2 separate regions of the Homo sapiens genome follow, and region 2 is linked to region 1. The links come from fine-mapping of genetic effects on gene expression. A gene starts in region 1. The other region holds a variant in brackets. All regions are shown on one strand. Distances are from middle to middle. Region 1 holds the start of B4GALT1 (beta-1,4-galactosyltransferase 1). Region 2 overlaps B4GALT1 (beta-1,4-galactosyltransferase 1).

Evidence for each region.
Region 2: its variant is fine-mapped to the expression of B4GALT1 in aorta (GTEx, PIP 0.95).

Annotation. Positions count from the first base shown.
Region 1 is chr9:33,164,529-33,170,044 of GRCh38, reverse strand. It overlaps B4GALT1 (beta-1,4-galactosyltransferase 1), which reads left to right and starts at 2,709. Exons shown (of 6, transcript NM_001497.4): 1 at 2,709-3,287. The coding sequence starts at 2,876. It overlaps B4GALT1-AS1 (B4GALT1 antisense RNA 1), which reads right to left and starts at 3,097. Exons shown (of 3, transcript NR_108110.1): 1 at 2,999-3,097. RefSeq lists enhancers at 2,126-2,205, 1,728-2,292, 2,276-2,375, 2,293-2,858 and silencers at 2,526-2,925, 2,684-2,957.
Region 2 is chr9:33,110,705-33,115,704 of GRCh38, reverse strand. It overlaps B4GALT1 (beta-1,4-galactosyltransferase 1), which reads left to right. Exons shown (of 6, transcript NM_001497.4): 5 at 1,827-1,931; 6 at 2,119-5,000. The coding sequence ends at 2,251. Among named protein-coding and RNA genes, the nearest start is that of MIR12117, 4.5 kb to the right of the region's middle. RefSeq lists an enhancer at 3,515-4,114. The variant C/T (reference allele first, on the strand shown) is at 2,637.

The DNA of each region.
Region 1 (5,516 bases):
TGAGCCAAGATCACGCCACTGCACTCCAGCCTGGGTGACAGAGTGAGACTCCGTCTCAAAAAAAAAAAAAAAAAAATCTAGGGGCTGAAGATACAGTAGTGAACAAGAGAGAAATTTCCTGTTCTCATGAAGCTGATTTTCTAATGAGGGAGGCAAGACAACAGAAAATAAATGCATAATGTTGGGTAGTTGATATCCACTCTGAAAAAAATCAAGCAGGTTAAGGCCGGGCGCGGTGGCTCACGCCTGTAATCCCAGCACTTTGGGAGGCCGAGGCGGGCGGATCACCTGAGGTCAGGAGTTTGAAACCAGCCTGGCCAACATGGTGAAATCCGTCTCTACTAAAAACACAAAAAATTAGCCCGGCGTGATGGCAGGCACCTGTAATCCCAGCTACTCAAGAGGCTGAGGCAGGAGAATCGCTTGAACCCGGGAGGCAGAGGTTGCAGTGAGGTGAGATTGCACCATTGCACTCCAACCTGGGGGACAAAAGCAAGACTTTGTCTCAAAAAAAAAAAAAAAAAAATTCAAGCAGTTTAAGCAGATTTGGGCAGGAGGCCATTCTGCATAAGGTAGTCTGAAAAGGTCTCTGTCATAAGGTGACATTTAAGAGACCTGAATTGAATGAAATATTGGGGACAAGTGTTTCAGGCTAAATGAACAGCAAGTACAAAGGCCCTGAGGCAGGAAGAAATATGGCAAGTTCAAGGAATAGCTATCAGGCTAGTGTGGCTAAGGCAGGTCCAGCATGGTAGAGTGACAGATGTGGGTGGGGAGGGAAATAGGAACCAGATTGAACAGGGTTTCTGTGGATTTGGTTCTGAACAAAATGGCATGATCTGATTTATGCTTACAAAGATTTCCTGGATGCTCTGTGGAAAACAGACTAGGGAGGAGGAATGGAGGAGGTGGAAGCAGGGTGACCAATTAGTAGCTGCCATATAACCCAGGGCAAGATGATGGTGGCTTGATCGAGGATGGTTACATCAGAGTTGGCTGGTGGTGAATTTTGATGTTTTGAAGGTAGCACTGACAAAGCTGGCTGAGGGCTTGCAAATGGCATTGAGAGCAAGAGAAGCACATCAAGGACACCTTTTAGATTCTGGGGAACTGAATAAACAATAGTATCACTCTCTGAGGGAGGTAAGAACGGGAGTGGTGTGTAAGGAGTAGGTTGCTGAGGGCAAGATGTATTGTGTTTGAGATGCCAGTAAAATAAGCAGTTGAATCTGGAGGTCAGGGAAGAGATCTGGGCTGGAGACAAATCAGTGATCAGCATTTGGATATTATAAATCATTCCGAGGCAGTAAGTGTAGACACAAAAGAACATCATGGACTATGGCTGGGGCCTTCAGCAACTGGGGAAGAAGTCCAGAGAGGAGACAGAAATGGCCAGTGAAGTGAGGAAGATCAGAAGGACCTGGTGTCCAGGAAGTCAAGTGAGGAAAGTTGATTCTGTATGATCACAACCAAAGTGTCAACTCATAAGCCTTATTTTCTCATCTGTGAAATGGACACCGTAACACCACCTACTTCATGGCAGATAGTACTGGCACACAGCAAACTCTCAAAATAAGGTAGCTACTGTTATTCCCTGATGGTTGGCTGCCAGAGCCCTCAACTTCCCTATCCACATTACTGACAGCACCTCCATGAGTCTTTCTCTGGGGTGAGGTGTCTCTGCTCACTCAGGGCCTGAGGCCTCTGGGTCAAATCGAGGTCAAGTGGCTTCAGTGCCTAAGTCTCTCACCCACACAGCCTTCAGCCCTTACTTGCAAATCAACAAAGGGTAAACCTGTAGAAAACATGGGTTTCGGAGCCAGAATTCTGCCTCTTGCCAGCTGTGGGCTCTTAGGAAAGTTTCTTAATCTGCCGGGGCCCCACTCTACGACATGGGGAGAACTGCTACTTCATGGGACAGTGGGTAGCCCAGTGTAGACTGTAACGCCGGCTGATCTCCTGCACGCTGGCCTGGGAGTTAGAGGCTTCTTGCTGCTCTCCTCTTCAAAGTATACAGGACTCCCGCCACACACACATCTGGAACCAAGCTGGTCTGAGAGCCCCTTATAGCCCAGGCTACCTGATGGGGAGGCACAGAAGTGGCAACCCGTCCACTTTCTTTGCCGCAGGACCCCCCGTTAAGCAGCGGGGTCCAGCCGGGCTGAGTTAGGGAGGGGGTTTCGAACGTGCCACTCCTCGCCCGGCGTCGAAGCCCGTTTCCTGGGTAACCTTTTTCTGCCTCTCTTCCTAGCCCACCAAGGCCCACTGGCCAGAACGCCGCCGCGGCCCCAAACCACTCCAGATAACCACCCGCCAGCTGTCCTCTCCGTTCTCTCCGCCGCCGCGCTGCAGGCCCAGGCTCGCACCCGAGTCCCTTCGCACCCCAGGAAGTGGCGCGGCCTGTCGAGGGCAGCGTGGAGGAGGAAGAGGAGGCGCGGCTCAACGCGACCGAAGCTCCGCCGCAAAGGCTCGGGAGGAAGAGGGCGGTGCGCGGCCAAGCGTCGGAGCTGCAGTCATACTCCGGGGACCCCACGACGGCGCCCCGCCCGCTGCCCACCCTCCCGAGGCCCCGCCCAGCGCGCCCATCCCGCCACGGGCTGCCCCGCCTTCCCGCCCTCGTCCAGAAAACCCCGCGCCCGGCCCCGCCCCCGCCTTCGCCGGGGCCCCGCCCCTCCCCTCTCCGCCGGCGCCTCGGGCGGCTTCTCGCCGCTCCCAGGTCTGGCTGGCTGGAGGAGTCTCAGCTCTCAGCCGCTCGCCCGCCCCCGCTCCGGGCCCTCCCCTAGTCGCCGCTGTGGGGCAGCGCCTGGCGGGCGGCCCGCGGGCGGGTCGCCTCCCCTCCTGTAGCCCACACCCTTCTTAAAGCGGCGGCGGGAAGATGAGGCTTCGGGAGCCGCTCCTGAGCGGCAGCGCCGCGATGCCAGGCGCGTCCCTACAGCGGGCCTGCCGCCTGCTCGTGGCCGTCTGCGCTCTGCACCTTGGCGTCACCCTCGTTTACTACCTGGCTGGCCGCGACCTGAGCCGCCTGCCCCAACTGGTCGGAGTCTCCACACCGCTGCAGGGCGGCTCGAACAGTGCCGCCGCCATCGGGCAGTCCTCCGGGGAGCTCCGGACCGGAGGGGCCCGGCCGCCGCCTCCTCTAGGCGCCTCCTCCCAGCCGCGCCCGGGTGGCGACTCCAGCCCAGTCGTGGATTCTGGCCCTGGCCCCGCTAGCAACTTGACCTCGGTCCCAGTGCCCCACACCACCGCACTGTCGCTGCCCGCCTGCCCTGAGGAGTCCCCGCTGCTTGGTAAGGACTCGGGTCGGCGCCAGTCGGAGGATTGGGACCCCCCCGGATTTCCCCGACAGGGTCCCCCAGACATTCCCTCAGGCTGGCTCTTCTACGACAGCCAGCCTCCCTCTTCTGGATCAGAGTTTTAAATCCCAGACAGAGGCTTGGGACTGGATGGGAGAGAAGGTTTGCGAGGTGGGTCCCTGGGGAGTCCTGTTGGAGGCGTGGGGCCGGGACCGCACAGGGAAGTCCCGAGGCCCCTCTAGCCCCAGAACCAGAGAAGGCCTTGGAGACTTCCCTGCTGTGGCCCGAGGCTCAGGAAGTTTTGGAGTTTGGGTCTGCTTAGGGCTTCGAGCAGCCTTGCACTGAGAACTCTGGTAGGGACCTCGAGTAATCCACTCCCTTTTGGGGACTGACGTGAGGCTCCCGGTGGGGAAGGAGACTGACCTCTCGGTTCACGTGTCTTGCCATAGAGCCACTCTCCTGAGTGGGTTTTTCTCCTGATCGTTTGGGCCAAGTGACTTCTCTCTGAACCTCATATTTCTCTTCTGGGATAATAAATGGTCACCCTTTCAAGGGGTTGTTTTGGAAGATATTGTGAACAATGGTAAATAAGGGCTTAATTAATGAGGGTAAGCCCTCAGTAAATTGTCACTGTGTGTTCATTTCTTCCTCTGTGTGGATCGTGACCGAGAGCCCTTCCCCCTAGCCTCCTCCTGGTATGGGTACCCAAAACCTAGGTGAGCAGGGATCTCTCCCAGGGGCAGAGAGCTTGTGTACTCTGGGTGTTAGAGGGCTAAAATATAACCAGTCAACACCACGTTGCCCATTTCTGGTACTTCCGGTAGCAGCCTGAGTCTCAATTATCTTGCCCAGATGATCTGAACTCTGACCTCTAGCCTGTTTCAGCATAGGCAGAGAGCTTGAGTAGGTGAGTTTGCATTCCTCATAGCAGCTGGCTGAGCCTAGTCTGGACTTCTCTTTGACCTGTAACCTACAGGCCCACAGGCCCAAGGCAACCACAGGTTGCTTCCAGGGTTACCACACAGGTGGTTTCTCATTTCTAATGCTAGGTTTTAGATAATTGTTGTAAGTGAGGGGCCCTGGCAGGCAGGATGACATCCTGCCAATAGGAGTTTTCTGTCACTTTCCCACAGAGCCCTGGCTACTACATACTCTTGCTCAATTTCGCCAGTAATTGCGTCAATGTGTTCATATCAAGTTTGGGAAGAACATCTTGGAATTGGTCAGACGTGAACTGTGGTAATAATGGGGGCTTGTTTTTTTAAGCAGATAATTAAATTCCTTTGCATTTGATGATTATTCTGGGAAGCAGACTAGTCCCATAAAATGAAATGGACTCTGCCTTGCTGCTAAGTGTCTGACTTGAGACATGCTATCGAGTTTCTCAAAATCTCTTCCTTGTGTAAAATGTGGTTGTCGATGATTACCTTACAGGGGTTTTTTTAAGACTAAATGAGATCGTGTACATTAAATACAGGCACTCAGGCTGGGCATGGTGGCTCACGCCTGTAATCCTAGCACTTTGGGAGGCTGAGGGGAGTGGATCACTTGAGGTTAGGAGTTTGAGACCAGCCTGGCCAATATGGTGAAACACCATCCCATCTCTACAAAAATACAAAAAAGTTAGCCAGGGGTGGTGGCATCGCAGCTACTCAGGAGGCCGAGGCAGGAGAATTGCTTGAACCTGGGAGGCAGAGGTTGCAGTGAGTCAAGATTGTGCCAGTACACTCCAGCCTGGGCGACGAAGCAAGACTGTCTAAAAAAAAAAAAAAAAAAAAAAATACGGGCACTCAATACACCGTATAATAATAATATAGTAATAATATTTGCTTAGGATCTTTAAAAAGTTTCATTTTTTCAGACTCCCACAGAAATGGCTCTGCACAGCAGAGTGAAGGGGGAGAGAGACTGAGTCTCCAGGCCAGAAAAAGGCCAGGTTTTTTGCTTTTGTTTTTAGTTGTTGCCTGGATATTGCACAGAAAGAAAAAATAATTAGCAAGTTAAACAAAAGTACCGCAAAGTTGATTACATTGGTATTTGAGTATCACATCTTCTCTCAGAAGCGTAAGAGACAAGGTCGTGACCATACCTCTGCTTAGTTTTGTTTTGTAATGGTGTTGCTAGTGATCGGCTTGTCACCAGTTACTGGTGTTTCTAAATGGACTATAATTGGCTACTTGAAAGGACTTCCTGAGAAAGAACATTTTGGAGGACGAGGAGAGA
Region 2 (5,000 bases), 54 kb after region 1:
AACCAATGTCCTTTGTAAAAATCCCTCCTTTCATTATGGTCCCCTTTCACTGTGAAACAAGTTTCCTTGAGCAGAATCCTAACTGTCTTCACAGAAGCTTTGTGTTATATTTTTATTTTGGAGTATTTTCACATATACAAAAGAGATACTGTAGTATAATAAACCTTTGAGGACCTATCCAGCCCCAGCAACCATTATGGCCTGGTCAGTTCTGTCCCATCCACATCCTGGGGCTCTTTTTAAGCTGGTAAATCATTATGATGTGGGTTGTCATTTACAGTGGTAAAAAACATCTATCAGTAGCATTTGAAAGAACATTCTGCTCAGTCCTCTGGCTGTAGAGGCTTCAACCCCACCAGCCACCGATGAGCACCTTCTCCCTCCAGGAGCCAGTCTGAGCTCATTACTGAGTTTAATATCAGAATACACCCTGGTGCAGCCTTTCTAAATTGCAGTACCAGTTAACAGAAGGTGTCTGTCAGAGCAACACCCAAGTCATTCAAGTTACCATTGTGTGCAAACTTAACAGAGACCCACGTCTTCAATATAAGCCTTGAAGGAAACTCCAGTTTTAGTATGTAGATGGGGTATCAAGTGTGTGCACATTGAACATCTGCTGCATACAGAGCACTGTGCCAGGCAGGCCCAGGACACTGAAAACCTGGACATAGGGTCCAGACAGAAGCAAGCCTGCTTCCACAGAGGCACTCCTGGGCAGACACTCTGGACTGATATGACAGTGTGCAGGGCCGACAGGATACCACAGGTCTGAATGGTCAGAACAGCTGGGGAGGGAGGGAGCATCCGCAGGCATCTAGTCCCATGCTAACGCAGTGGCACTAGAAGGATGGGTGGTGTGTGGAGCAACTTTCTTGAAAGATAAAGGACCTAACACTTTCTATGCACCACTTACTGTGTGCCAGGCAAGGCCAGGAATGTTTAAGTGGTCTGGGATCAGCCAGTTCTGCCTCTTAACTAACTTTGCTGTCCTGCTCTCCAGGCTTTCATTTTGGTCCTCATTCCTTTTCCTTGGACCAACACAGAATCCTCCACCCTGTTCTGGCTGCCTCTAGTCTTGTTCTCAGCCCTCCATTTGTTTTTTTCTGCCTTTTCCCACATGTTCTGAAGCCCTCCATTCGTATACTACTTTCCAGAGACTTCCCCATGGCTAAAAGCATTTTGGAAATACTGTATATTAGGCCCCTTTCAGATACTGGCAACCGTTTGTGGGATGCTCTGAGAAGGCCTCTGTGACTTAGCCTGGCCCTTTTCAGCCCATCACCTGCCACGTCCTACCCCAGACCCTTGTCACCAGTCCCCAGGAGCTTACGTTGCTCCCTGAGGGCACTAGGCTTGCTCTCACTTCCATGCCTTTGCCTGTGCCATCCTGGCTGCCCAAAATGCTATGGCAGATACCTGTTCATCCTCAACTGGGCTCTGCCTAGGCTTGCTCCAGCAGAGGTTACAAACTCTATGCTTCTTCCTCTGTGTCTCCAACCTCATCTTCCTCTTCTCACCTCCATCCTGGCCCTAAAGGCCCTATGTTTGAAGCATTCACACTGTATATTCTGTGGGGCACACGGCCCCAGTGTCTGGCACATGGTAGTCAACACCACAAACCGCAGAACCAGTTGTAAAAGGACATGGAGTCGGAATGTGAGTTTTAACCAGGGTCATGCTGGGCTGGGTTCTGGCATGATGCTGGGTTGTGGGCTGAGTGAGAACAGCAAGGGTGATGGTGGATGGAGCAACAGTCTTGCAGCCGGGGCTCTCAGGCCAAGTGTATGGCAGCTCTGTGATAATGACTTTCCCTTTACTCTTTGCAGATTAGTTTTTAGAGGCATGTCTATATCTCGCCCAAATGCTGTGGTCGGGAGGTGTCGCATGATCCGCCACTCAAGAGACAAGAAAAATGAACCCAATCCTCAGAGGTGCATTCTTTGTTTATTCATACTCCTTCCCCCTTTAGGATGAGGTAGGCTGCAGGTCCGAGGCTCTGGGCCTAGAGGGAAATTGAGGTGGTCAGGTTACAGTGGAGAGGGAGGAGGAAGTACGTGTGATGATTTCTTCTTAAGATTTTTGTTTTAAGACAATCTCCTTGTGCTCTTTTCCTTGTAGGTTTGACCGAATTGCACACACAAAGGAGACAATGCTCTCTGATGGTTTGAACTCACTCACCTACCAGGTGCTGGATGTACAGAGATACCCATTGTATACCCAAATCACAGTGGACATCGGGACACCGAGCTAGCGTTTTGGTACACGGATAAGAGACCTGAAATTAGCCAGGGACCTCTGCTGTGTGTCTCTGCCAATCTGCTGGGCTGGTCCCTCTCATTTTTACCAGTCTGAGTGACAGGTCCCCTTCGCTCATCATTCAGATGGCTTTCCAGATGACCAGGACGAGTGGGATATTTTGCCCCCAACTTGGCTCGGCATGTGAATTCTTAGCTCTGCAAGGTGTTTATGCCTTTGCGGGTTTCTTGATGTGTTCGCAGTGTCACCCCAGAGTCAGAACTGTACACATCCCAAAATTTGGTGGCCGTGGAACACATTCCCGGTGATAGAATTGCTAAATTGTCGTGAAATAGGTTAGAATTTTTCTTTAAATTATGGTTTTCTTATTCGTGAAAATT[C/T]GGAGAGTGCTGCTAAAATTGGATTGGTGTGATCTTTTTGGTAGTTGTAATTTAACAGAAAAACACAAAATTTCAACCATTCTTAATGTTACGTCCTCCCCCCACCCCCTTCTTTCAGTGGTATGCAACCACTGCAATCACTGTGCATATGTCTTTTCTTAGCAAAAGGATTTTAAAACTTGAGCCCTGGACCTTTTGTCCTATGTGTGTGGATTCCAGGGCAACTCTAGCATCAGAGCAAAAGCCTTGGGTTTCTCGCATTCAGTGGCCTATCTCCAGATTGTCTGATTTCTGAATGTAAAGTTGTTGTGTTTTTTTTTAAATAGTAGTTTGTAGTATTTTAAAGAAAGAACAGATCGAGTTCTAATTATGATCTAGCTTGATTTTGTGTTGATCCAAATTTGCATAGCTGTTTAATGTTAAGTCATGACAATTTATTTTTCTTGGCATGCTATGTAAACTTGAATTTCCTATGTATTTTTATTGTGGTGTTTTAAATATGGGGAGGGGTATTGAGCATTTTTTAGGGAGAAAAATAAATATATGCTGTAGTGGCCACAAATAGGCCTATGATTTAGCTGGCAGGCCAGGTTTTCTCAAGAGCAAAATCACCCTCTGGCCCCTTGGCAGGTAAGGCCTCCCGGTCAGCATTATCCTGCCAGACCTCGGGGAGGATACCTGGGAGACAGAAGCCTCTGCACCTACTGTGCAGAACTCTCCACTTCCCCAACCCTCCCCAGGTGGGCAGGGCGGAGGGAGCCTCAGCCTCCTTAGACTGACCCCTCAGGCCCCTAGGCTGGGGGGTTGTAAATAACAGCAGTCAGGTTGTTTACCAGCCCTTTGCACCTCCCCAGGCAGAGGGAGCCTCTGTTCTGGTGGGGGCCACCTCCCTCAGAGGCTCTGCTAGCCACACTCCGTGGCCCACCCTTTGTTACCAGTTCTTCCTCCTTCCTCTTTTCCCCTGCCTTTCTCATTCCTTCCTTCGTCTCCCTTTTTGTTCCTTTGCCTCTTGCCTGTCCCCTAAAACTTGACTGTGGCACTCAGGGTCAAACAGACTATCCATTCCCCAGCATGAATGTGCCTTTTAATTAGTGATCTAGAAAGAAGTTCAGCCGAACCCACACCCCAACTCCCTCCCAAGAACTTCGGTGCCTAAAGCCTCCTGTTCCACCTCAGGTTTTCACAGGTGCTCCCACCCCAGTTGAGGCTCCCACCCACAGGGCTGTCTGTCACAAACCCACCTCTGTTGGGAGCTATTGAGCCACCTGGGATGAGATGACACAAGGCACTCCTACCACTGAGCGCCTTTGCCAGGTCCAGCCTGGGCTCAGGTTCCAAGACTCAGCTGCCTAATCCCAGGGTTGAGCCTTGTGCTCGTGGCGGACCCCAAACCACTGCCCTCCTGGGTACCAGCCCTCAGTGTGGAGGCTGAGCTGGTGCCTGGCCCCAGTCTTATCTGTGCCTTTACTGCTTTGCGCATCTCAGATGCTAACTTGGTTCTTTTTCCAGAAGCCTTTGTATTGGTTAAAAATTATTTTCCATTGCAGAAGCAGCTGGACTATGCAAAAAGTATTTCTCTGTCAGTTCCCCACTCTATACCAAGGATATTATTAAAACTAGAAATGACTGCATTGAGAGGGAGTTGTGGGAAATAAGAAGAATGAAAGCCTCTCTTTCTGTCCGCAGATCCTGACTTTTCCAAAGTGCCTTAAAAGAAATCAGACAAATGCCCTGAGTGGTAACTTCTGTGTTATTTTACTCTTAAAACCAAACTCTACCTTTTCTTGTTGTTTTTTTTTTTTTTTTTTTTTTTTTTTTGGTTACCTTCTCATTCATGTCAAGTATGTGGTTCATTCTTAGAACCAAGGGAAATACTGCTCCCCCCATTTGCTGACGTAGTGCTCTCATGGGCTCACCTGGGCCCAAGGCACAGCCAGGGCACAGTTAGGCCTGGATGTTTGCCTGGTCCGTGAGATGCCGCGGGTCCTGTTTCCTTACTGGGGATTTCAGGGCTGGGGGTTCAGGGAGCATTTCCTTTTCCTGGGAGTTATGACCGCGAAGTTGTCATGTGCCGTGCCCTTTTCTGTTTCTGTGTATCCTATTGCTGGTGACTCTGTGTGAACTGGCCTTTGGGAAAGATCAGAGAGGGCAGAGGTGGCACAGGACAGTAAAGGAGATGCTGTGCTGGCCTTCAGCCTGGACAGGGTCTCTGCTGACTGCCAGGGGCGGGGGCTCTGCATAGCCAGGATGACGGCTTTCATGTCCCAGAGACCTGTTGTGCTGTGTATTTTGATTTCCTGTGTATGCAAATGTGTGTATTTACCATTGTGTAGGGGGCTGTGTCTGATCTTGGTGTTCAAAACA